Homo sapiens: one gene and its partners. The protein of the gene in region 1 interacts with the protein of each later gene in a biochemical or structural test. Each region holds a gene or a part of one and is shown in the gene's direction. Other genes may lie near its edges.

Region 1 (3,500 bases):
TATGCTGGATGGATAGATAACTTTTGAAACAAAATATTTAATGCATTTTAAATGGTAGAAGGAAGAATGGTTAGATATTTGGCCCAATGTAAAAATCCCTGCTGTTTAAAAATACTTGTTTTTTTTTGTAGTCCTTCTTTACAGTTTGAAGCTGCATGGGCTTTGACAAACATTGCATCTGGAACTTCTGAACAAACTCAAGCAGTAGTTCAGTCCAGTAAGTTGGTTATTAATAAACATAATTGTGATTTTTTTTAAAAGAAGTCGGTAAAAAATAGTGATCTTCCCAAAAGACTATGGCAATTTAAATTATAAAATAATAGCTACTACGTAGTTATTGAAATAGGTCAACTTAAGTATGTTACTTTAATCTTCTTATTCTGGTGACTGATGTTTTTTGTATTTCCAAAAATTCACTTGATTCCTTTCTAAATATGAGAACATTTCCTAATTATAGTAGCAGATTACATTATTATTGTTACACTTTATTTATAGGACATCAGTAGAAATAAAGGAGTTTTTCCTGTTGCCACATTGCCTCTCAGCCTCTCTTTTTTTGTTTTTGTTTTTTTGTTGTTGTTGTTTTTCTTTCTCAGACAAGATCTTACTCTTTTGGCCAGGCTGGAATACAATGGCACAATCTCAGCTCACTGTAGCCTCGGCCTCCCAGGCTCAAGAGACCCTTCCGCATCAGTCCACCAAGTAGCTGGGACTACAGGCATGTGCCACTGTGCCTAGCTAATTTTTGTAATATTTTTGTGTTTTTTGTAGAGACAGGGTTTCACCATGTTGCCCAGGCTGGTCTCTAACTCTGGGCTCAAGTGATCAACCTGCTTTGGCCTCCCAGTGTGCTGGGATTATAGGCATGAGCCACCACACCGGGCCTCAGCCTCTCTTAATGAGATTTTTCTCTTTTTTTTTTTTTTTTTTTTTTTTTGAGATGGAGTCTCACTCTGTCGCCCAGGCTGGAGTGCAGTGATGCGATCTCGGCTCACTGCAAGCTCCACCTCCCGGGTTCATGCCATTCTCCTGCTTCCGTCTCCCAAGTACCTGGGGCTACAGGCGCCCACCACCACGCCCGGCTAGTTTTTTGTATTTTTAGTAGAGACGGGGTTTCACTGTGTTAGCCAGGATGGTCTCGGTCTCGATCTCCTGACCTCATGATCCGCCTGCCTCGGCCTCCCAAAGTGCTGGGATTACAGGTGTGAGCCACCACGCCCGGCCATATCATATATTTTAAAGAAATCTTCTATAAAGTAGTCCTAGTTGAAAGAATGGCTCGAATTTTTTTTTCATTGTTATTATAATAGGATTGCTTTTTTTTGTTTCAAGAAATGTAAGTGGAAAATTATTGGAAGTAAGAACCCGAGTGTATTGTCTTCATGAATAGTATTTGATTGTTCTACCAAACAAAGAAATTAATAATTTTAAAGAAGATACTTTTAAAATCCTCTTTAAATATGTAAGCAGCATACTTCTCTGAGCTTATTAAAAATGTAAGCACTAATTTGTACATTTTGAAGGGGAACAAAGATGTTATCCAAATAATCATTTTACTGTAGACACTTATGTTGTAATATTACTTAGAAAAGATAATTACCTCACATCCTATTAAAACTGGTTTGGTTTTGGGTTCAGGTGGTTTTTATTGTGGTTTTTTGGTTTTGTATAGCTGACTCTTAGGAAAATTTTTGGTTTCATAACAATGTTTTATTCCCTCTCACACTTTTTCCTTTCTGTTATGTATGCTCTCTAAAGATTAGAAAGAGGCTTAGAATTTTTTTGACCCTGCTAGTCTGCTTTAATATACCAAAAATAATAAATAAATAAATAAATGAGGTTGGGCATGGTGGCTCATGCCAGTAATTCTAGCACTTAGGGAGGCTGAGGCAGGCAGATTACTGGAGTCCAGGAGCTAGAGACCAGCCTGGGCAACATGGTAAAACCCCATCTCTACAAAATGCAGGAAAAAAAAATTAGCCGGGCTTGGTGGCATGCACCTATAGTCCCAACAACCCAGGAGGCTGAGGTAGGAGGATCACTTAAGCCAGGGGAGGTCAAGGCTGCAGTGACCTGTGGTGACACCACTGAACTCCAGTCTGGGCAGCAGAGTAAGGCACTATCTCAAAAACAAACCCATAAGTGAATTACCTTTTATGATATTACAAGCATGATTGAGCTACATATACTTAAATAGTGCTTTTTAAAGTAATATCAGAAGGAAAGAAGAAGAATCATTTGTTCAGTGCAGTATTTTGTTCAGATACAGACCTATCTCTGTTTCCCATCCTGTTGAGTAACAGAATCACTTTCTGATTCGGAAGATCCCACATGGCCCAGGAATCACTGGCCTGTCTTAAAGACCCACATGTTGTTAACATAAATTTGTGTTCAAAAGTTACTTCAGGCCGGGTGCAGTGGCTCATGCCTGTAATCCCAGCACTTTGGGAGGCCAAGGCAGGCAGATCACTTGAGGTCATGAGTTTGAGACCAGCCTGGCCAATACGGTGAAACCCTGTCGCTACTAAAAATACAAAAATTAGCCAGGCATGGTGGCTCACACCTGCAGTCCTAGCTACTTGGGAGGGTGAGGCAGGAGAATCACTGAAGCTTGGGAGGCAGAGGTTGCAGTGAGCCAAGATTCCACCGCTTCCCTCCAGCCTGGATGACAGAGTGAGACTCCGTCTCAAAAAAACAAAAAAAAAGTTACTTCAATAATGTACTTTTTTTTTTCAAACTACAGATAATCTATAAGGAATTAATCTTGAAATTAATTCCAGGTTTAATTGTTAATGAAATTTCACAAGCCTAATTTAACACTTGTCTGGATAACTCATTTTGATACTGAGTAAATAGTCACTGGTCAAAATTCTTCCAATGATGCTATTCCAATAAAATTCATTTAATGAGGTTATATTTTAAGTATATTTTTATAGGTTCCCTTTTTTTTGAGGTCTCAGCAAAAAAATAAAGATTGATTTTTGGTTTATGGTATCTTCAACCTTAAGTATTGTTATTTTTTCTTCCATCAGATGCTGTGCCACTTTTCCTGAGGCTTCTCCATTCACCCCATCAGAATGTCTGTGAGCAAGCAGTGTGGGCATTGGGAAATATCATAGGTTTGTATAAAACTTGTAATACTAGTCTAAAAATTGTTATCATATACTAAGTAATAAAAATAGCTACTAGTAATCCAAAAGAGAAAACAGTTTGCCTTCAGTACTAGTTTTTGTGAAATAGCTTACAGAAATTTGAACTGTATTACTGTAAAAGCATAAAGTCATAGTAAATAGAATTTTTGTTGCTTAAGATACCATTTTTTTGGTATATAGTTAGCTCTTAATTATTTGAATAATTATGCAAGATGTATACAATTTAGACCTTCTGTCTCATGCTAGGATCCATTTTTTCTTCCCCTAACCCCCATGTTGATCAGTGGGGTCCCTTTTTATTTCTCAGCTTTCTCCATCAAAGAAAGTAACAAGAAAAAAGACAAAACT
Region 2 (2,923 bases), on another chromosome or scaffold:
GGCCAGGCTGGCTGGGCCGGGTGTGGTGGCTCACACCTGTAATCCCAGCACTTTGGGAGGCCGAGGCAGGCGGATCACGAGGGCAAGAGATCGAGACCATCTTGGCCAACATGGTGAAACCCCATCTCTACTAAAAATACAAAAATTGGCCGGGCGTGGTGGCTCATGCCTGTAATCCCAGCACTTTGGGACGCCCAGGCGGGCAGATCACGAGGTCAGGAGATTGAGATTGTCCTGGCTAACACGGTGAAACCCTGTCTCTACTAAAAATACAAAAAATTAGCCGGGCGTGGTTGCAGGCGCCTGTAGTCCCAGCTACTCGGGAGGCTGAGCCAGGAGAATGGCCTGAACCTGGGAGGCAGAGCTTGCAGTGAGCAGAGATTGCACCACTGCACTCCAGCCTGGGCGACAGAGCGAGCCTCCATCTCAACAATAACAACAAAAAAATACAAAAATTAGCTGGGCATGGTGGCGCACACTTGTAGTCCCAGCTACTCGGGAGGCTGAGACAGGAGAATCACTTGAACCTAGGAGGTGGAGGTTGTAGTGAGCCGAGATTGCGCCACTGTACTCTAGCCTGGCAACAGAGCAAGAGTCCATCTCAAAAAAAAAAAAAAAAAAAAAAAGAGGCCGGGCTGTTGGCCGGGGTGGTGGCTCACATCTGTAATCCCAGCACTTTGGGAGGCCAAGGCGGGTGGATCACCTGAGGTCAGGAGTTCAAGACCAGCCTGGCCAACATGGTGAAACCTTGTCTCTACTAAAATATATATATATATATATATATATATATACAAAAATTAGCCAGGCATGGTGGCACACCCCTGTAGTCCCGGCCACTCAGGAGGCTGAGGCACGAGAATAGCTTGAACCCAGGAGCGAGAGGTTGCAGTGAGCCAAGATTGTGCCACTGCACTCCAGCTTGGGTGACAGACCAAGTCTCTGTCTCAGAAGAAAAAAAAAAAAAAAAAAGAGGCTGGGCTGAGTGGTGTTTCTCTCCTGCAGGCTGCCGTGGGGTGTGTGTAGGCTTCAGAGACATGGGATCACGGAAGACTGAAGCAGAAACAGTGGATTAAGACTTCCTGAGCGATAGCTGGTGAGTAGTGGGATGTGCAAGAGAATTCCACCTCCCCTTGGTTTCCTGCTGTCTCACTGGCTCCTGCCCCTCTTTCTCCAGGCACTGCCTTCCCCACAATGGCAGAGGTGGTGGCTGAGGTGGCCGAGATGCCAACACAGATGTCACCAGGGGCAGTGGAGATGTCAACACCTATGTCGGCAGAGATGATGGAGATGTCAACAGAAGTGACTGAGATGACACCTGGGGAGGCCCTTGCCTCATCCCTCTTCTTCCAGCATCACCAGTTCATGTGCTCTGAGTGTGGCAGCCTCTATAACACACTGGAGGAAGTCCTCTCACACCAGGAGCAGCACATGCTTGCTGTCTCAGAGGAGGAGGCACTGACCACACAGAATGTTGGCCTGGAGCCGGAGCTGGTGCCGGGTGCTGAGGGGCCCTTCCAGTGTGGTGAATGCAGCCAGCTCATCCTCTCCCCTGGGGAGCTCCTGGCCCACCAGGATGCCCACCTCCGAGAGTCTGCAAACCAGATCCAATACCAGTGCTGGGACTGCCAGGAGCTGTTCCCCTCGCCCGAGCTGTGGGTGGCTCATCGAAAGGCCCAGCACCTTTCTGCTACGGTAGCTGAGCCACCAGTGCCACCTCCTTTGCCTCCCCCAACACCACTGCCTCCACCTTCTCCCCCATCCGAAGTCAAGATGGAGCCCTATGAGTGTCCTGAGTGCTCTACCCTCTGCGCCACCCCTGAGGAGTTCTTGGAGCATCAGGGCACCCACTTTGACTCCCTAGAGAAAGAGGAGCGCAATGGGTTGGAGGAGGAGGAAGAGGACGATGAGGAGGATGAAGAAGATGATGAAGAGATGGAGGATGAGGAGGCCATGGCAGAGGTCGGTGATGATGCTGTGGGAGGTGACGAGTCCACAGCTGGCTGGGCTCAGGGCTGCGGGGACTGTCCCCAGCACCAGCCCTCAGCAGGGGCTCGCCGGCAACACCGGCGGACGGCTCACAGCCCGGCATCTGCCACCCACCCCTTCCACTGCAGCCAGTGTCAGCGCAGTTTCAGCTCCGCCAACCGGCTGCAGGCTCATGGGCGGGCCCATGTTGGTGGCACACATGAGTGTACAACCTGCTCCAAGGTCTTCAAGAAAGCAGCATCGCTTGAGCAGCACTTGCGGCTGCATCGCGGGGAAGCCCGCTACCTCTGTGTAGACTGTGGCCGCGGCTTTGGCACAGAACTCACGTTGGTGGCTCACCGGCGGGCCCACACTGCCAACCCATTGCATCGCTGTCGTTGCGGCAAGACGTTCAGCAACATGACCAAGTTCCTCTACCACCGGCGCACTCACGCCGGCAAAAGCGGGGCACCTCCCACAGGAGCAACAGCTCCCCCAGCTCCAGCGGAGCCCACCCCTCCACCACCACCCCCTGCCCCACCTGCCCAGCTGCCCTGCCCACAGTGCTCCAAGTCCTTTGCCTCAGCTTCCCGGCTGTCCCGGCACCGGCGTGCAGTACACGGGCCCCCTGAACGGCGTCACCGCTGTGGGGTTTGTGGCAAGGGCTTCAAGAAGCTGATCCACGTGCGCAACCACCTGCGGACACACACGGGTGAGAGGCCCTTCCAGTGCCACTCATGTGGCAAGACCTTTGCTTCTTTGGCCAACCTCAGCCGCCACCAGCTGACCCATACGGGTGCACGTCCCTACCAATGCCTGGACTGTGGCAAGCGCTTCACACAGAGCTCCAACCTGCAGCAGCACCGGCGGTTGCACTTGCGGCCAGTCGCCTTTGCCCGCGCCCCCCGCCTCCCCATCACTGGTCTCTACAACAAGAGTCCCTACTACTGCGGGACTT
Region 3 (3,728 bases), on another chromosome or scaffold:
GCTGCCCTGTCCTGAGCACCAGGTCACTGGTATCCACTCAGCCCCATCTTGCAGAGTCACTTCAATGTCTCCCCAGCCCCTTTCTTAGAAACACTGGCCAAGTCACAGTCCCTGCCAGGTCTGTGGGTGCCCACCCTCCATCTATTGTGCTGTGTGTCCCTGCCCTCTCCTGGGGGTGTCATGGATGGGCCAGTGGGTCTGCCTGCCTGGCCCCTAGGACCATATCAGCCTCGGGCAGCCCCCACTTGGTGGAATCTGGGTCAGTTCTGAGGTGCCCTGGCCTGGAGCCCTTCTACTACCCTAAAGAGGGCCTTCTTGTTGGGAGGGGCTGCTAGCCAGAGCCCAGGTTACTGGCCCCACACCCCATTTCAGGAGGTATCCTGCATGTCCCTCCCCAAGGCCAGGATGGAGAGTTGTTGGTTGACCACTGCACTCCTGTGATCACCGCACCCCTGCACTCTCCTCCTCGGCTTTCTCAGCCCCTGGCCTCCAGAACCGCCTATGCCCCTACCTGGGCTACTCAGGGTAGACAAGACCTTTAGCAGGGAGTCCCCTCACCTCCACTGCCCTCTGTCCTTCACCCCAGGGCCTTCTGTGGGGTTACTGGCTACTGGCTCCTCTCTAAACCCCAGTTTCCACGGGGTAGCTAGGATTGTCCCTGGCTTTATAAGGATAGCCAGGCCTCGGTGTGGGCGGGAGAGTGGGGAAAGTATTTGGAATCGGGAAGTCCATCTCTAGGGCTGATCCAGGGACTCTGGGTGGCAGGGCCTGGTCAGAAAGGGTTCATGCTGGCCTCCAGGCTGTATTTGTGGGGGCAGATCCTCACCAGAGTGAGTGGGGTGGGTCAGTACTAGGCCCCTCCACTGCCTTGCCTGCCATCAGAGCCCAGGGGTCCCTTATTGAGAAAGAGGTGGGGCCTGCTGGCACCGGGGTCCCTCCACCCTGCTGAAAGGGTCTCCTGGCTGCATCGCAGCTAACATCCCTTCCTTCCTGTCGGGCAGCCAGAGCAGCTGAGTTCCAGATAAAAACTGTCAGACCCGGCCTGTAGGCTGCTCCATTGCCAATGAACTCCATGAACCCCATGAAACCTGCCCTGCCCCCTGCGCCACACGGGTGAGTGTGGGCTCCTCTGCCCACCCCTCAGGCCCTGGGGTTGGGGGTGGCATTTCTGGAAGATCCTAGACTCTTGGACACCAGTGGCTTCCTGACCCAGGCCTCAGCAGCCTCTTTCCCTGCAGTGATGGTTCATTCGCATATGAGTCTGTGCCTTGGCAACAAAGCGCCACTCAGCCGGCTGGATCGCTGTCTGTGGTCACTACTGTGTGGGGAGTTGGCAACGCGACACAGAGCCAGGTAAGCACCCACTGGTGCCCCACCCCCGAGCAGACAGAGCCTCCCAGCACTTGGCAGTGCTTAGTGCCTCCTCAGAGCTCTGAGAGACGAAGAGGCTGAGAGGTGAGGACAGAGAGGCTGAGGCATGACATATGAGGATGGGGCCTCCTGAGTCCCCTAAGTCTTTGGACACTGGTTCTCTTTCCACACCTGCTGTGGGATTTTCTTCTCCTGTCTTCACCTAGCCTTCACAAAATGCCCCAACCTCCCTGTGGACAGCTGCTTTCCCTGCTTCCCGTGCTATACCCTGTCCCCCCCACCTCTCCCCCAACCCACTTGCCAGGCCTGTTGGTTTCTAGCACTTTGGAGCTGCTGCATGAAGCACGTTGTTTGGCTGGTTCCCTTTGGTGATTCCTGCTTCCTCATAGGTTTTGGGGAACCCCATGGGCCCTGCAGGGAGTCCCTCTGGCAGCTCCATGATGCCTGGTGTGGCAGGGGGCAGCTCCGCCTTGACCTCCCCACAGTGCCTGGGACAGCAGGCGTTTGCTGAAGGCGGCGCCAACAAGGGCTACGTGCAGCAAGGCGTGTACAGCCGCGGGGGCTACCCTGGGGCCCCCGGCTTCACCACCGGGTAAGCAAGTTCCCTCACCTGGCAGGTATGCTAGGAGCCATCAATCTGGCAGGCACCTCAGAACTGTGGCGCTGATCAGCTGGACGTTCCCTCTCTGCTTCCTGACAGCTGTAGTGGAGGGTCTAGAAAGAATGGGCTCCCCCTGGGTGCTGCATGCCTCTGGGGTGAGCACAGTCCTGGCCCTCATGAGCCCACGCAGAGAGCGTGGCAATCCTGTGTCTCCTGCAGGTATGCAGGCGGCCCGGGGGGCCTGGGCCTCCCCTCACATGCTGCAAGACCCTCCACTGACTTCACGCAAGCGGCAGCTGCTGCAGCTGTGGCTGCTGCGGCAGCCACTGCCACCGCCACAGCCACAGCCACCGTGGCTGCTCTCCAGGAGAAGCAGAGCCAGGAGCTGAGCCAGTATGGAGCGGTGAGCCCCCTCAGCAGCTCCTCCCACATGGCAGCCAGCCTGAGGGCCTGGGAGGAGGTACTCAGCCAGACAGTGGGCTCCAGGGACAAGCATGGAATATGCCAGGGCTCATGAAGCCAGTAAAAGAGAGATGTGTGGGAAGGAGTGAGGGTCTGAGGGGAGAGGTTTCTGGGGTGTCCTGTGAAAGGGTATGGTGCCCACATGGGTGGGTGGGCGGGTTTTATGCCTATCTTTTGGAGCCCTTTGTGGGTGGGACCTGGACCATTCTTCTTTTTTCTCTTCCTAGATGGGGGCCGGACAGTCTTTTAACAGCCAGTTTCTGCAGCATGGAGGTCCCCGGGGGCCTAGTGTCCCCGCTGGCATGAACCCTACTGGCATAGGAGGGGTAATGGGCCCCTCTGGCCTCTCCCCCTTGGCTATGAACCCCACCCGGGCAGCAGGAATGACACCCTTGTATGCAGGGCAGCGTCTGCCCCAACATGGGTATCCTGGGCCTCCCCAGGCCCAGCCACTGCCCCGACAGGGGGTCAAGAGAACCTACTCTGAGGTGAGTGTCCAGGTCACCTAGTTTGGGGCCTTGGGTACCAACTCCCTCACCCAGGCACTCTTTAGAGCTGTGGTAAAGAGCAGGCTTCTGGCTGGGCATGGTGGCTCACGCCTGTAGTCCCTGCACTTTGGGAAACCAAGGAGGGTGGATCCCTTGAGCTCAGGAGTTTGAGACCAGCCTGGGCAACATGGCGAAACCGTGTCTCTACAAAAATTAGCCTGGTGTGGTGGCATGTGGCTGTAGTCATAGCTACTTGGGAGGCAGAGGTGGGAGGATCGCCTGAACCCAGAAAGTTGAGGGTGCAGTTAGCTGTGATCGCTCCCCTGCACTTCAGGCTGGGCAACAGGAGTGAGACCCTGTTTCAAAAAAAAAAAAAAAAAGCAAAAGCCGGGCATGCTGTCTCATGCCTGTAATCCCAACACTTTGGGAGGCTGAGGCAGGTGGATCACTTGAGATCAGGAGTTCAAGACCAGCCTGGCCAATGTGGTGAAACCGCATGTCTACTAATAATAGAAAAAATTAGGCCGGGCGCGGTGGCTCACGCCTGTAATCTCAGCACTTTGGGAGGCCAAGGCGGGTGGATCACGAGGTCAGGAGTTGAAGACCAGCCTGGCCAGCATGGTGAAACCCCATCTCTAATAAAAATACAAAAAGCATTAGCCGGGTGTGGTGGCGGGCGCCTGCAGTCCCAGCTACTTGGGAGGCTGAGGCAGGAGAATTGCTTGAACCCAGCAGGCAGAGGTTGCAGTGAGCTGAGATCATGCCACTGCACTCCAGCCTGGGTGACAGAATAAGACTCCATCTCA

The links.
Region 2: the proteins of KPNA4 (region 1) and ZNF526 interact in a biophysical measurement, tested with the Homo sapiens proteins (one large-scale study listed by IntAct).
Region 3: the proteins of KPNA4 (region 1) and ZMIZ2 interact in a test that uses a peptide from one of them, tested with the Homo sapiens proteins (one study listed by BioGRID).

The regions. Positions count from the first base shown.
Region 1 is NC_000003.12:160,527,572-160,531,071, reverse strand, and holds part of KPNA4 (importin subunit alpha-3), read left to right. Parts: intron 1-131; coding exon 132-217; intron 218-3,032; coding exon 3,033-3,119; intron 3,120-3,500. UniProt on the Homo sapiens protein: Functions in nuclear protein import as an adapter protein for nuclear receptor KPNB1. Binds specifically and directly to substrates containing either a simple or bipartite NLS motif.
Region 2 is NC_000019.10:42,223,213-42,226,135, forward strand, and holds part of ZNF526 (zinc finger protein 526), read left to right. Parts: intron 1-1,002; 5' UTR 1,003-1,093; intron 1,094-1,174; 5' UTR 1,175-1,191; coding exon 1,192-2,923. UniProt on the Homo sapiens protein: May be involved in transcriptional regulation.
Region 3 is NC_000007.14:44,755,187-44,758,914, forward strand, and holds part of ZMIZ2 (zinc finger MIZ domain-containing protein 2), read left to right. Parts: intron 1-1,001; 5' UTR 1,002-1,063; coding exon 1,064-1,113; intron 1,114-1,238; coding exon 1,239-1,353; intron 1,354-1,760; coding exon 1,761-1,963; intron 1,964-2,191; coding exon 2,192-2,375; intron 2,376-2,661; coding exon 2,662-2,922; intron 2,923-3,728. UniProt on the Homo sapiens protein: Increases ligand-dependent transcriptional activity of AR and other nuclear hormone receptors.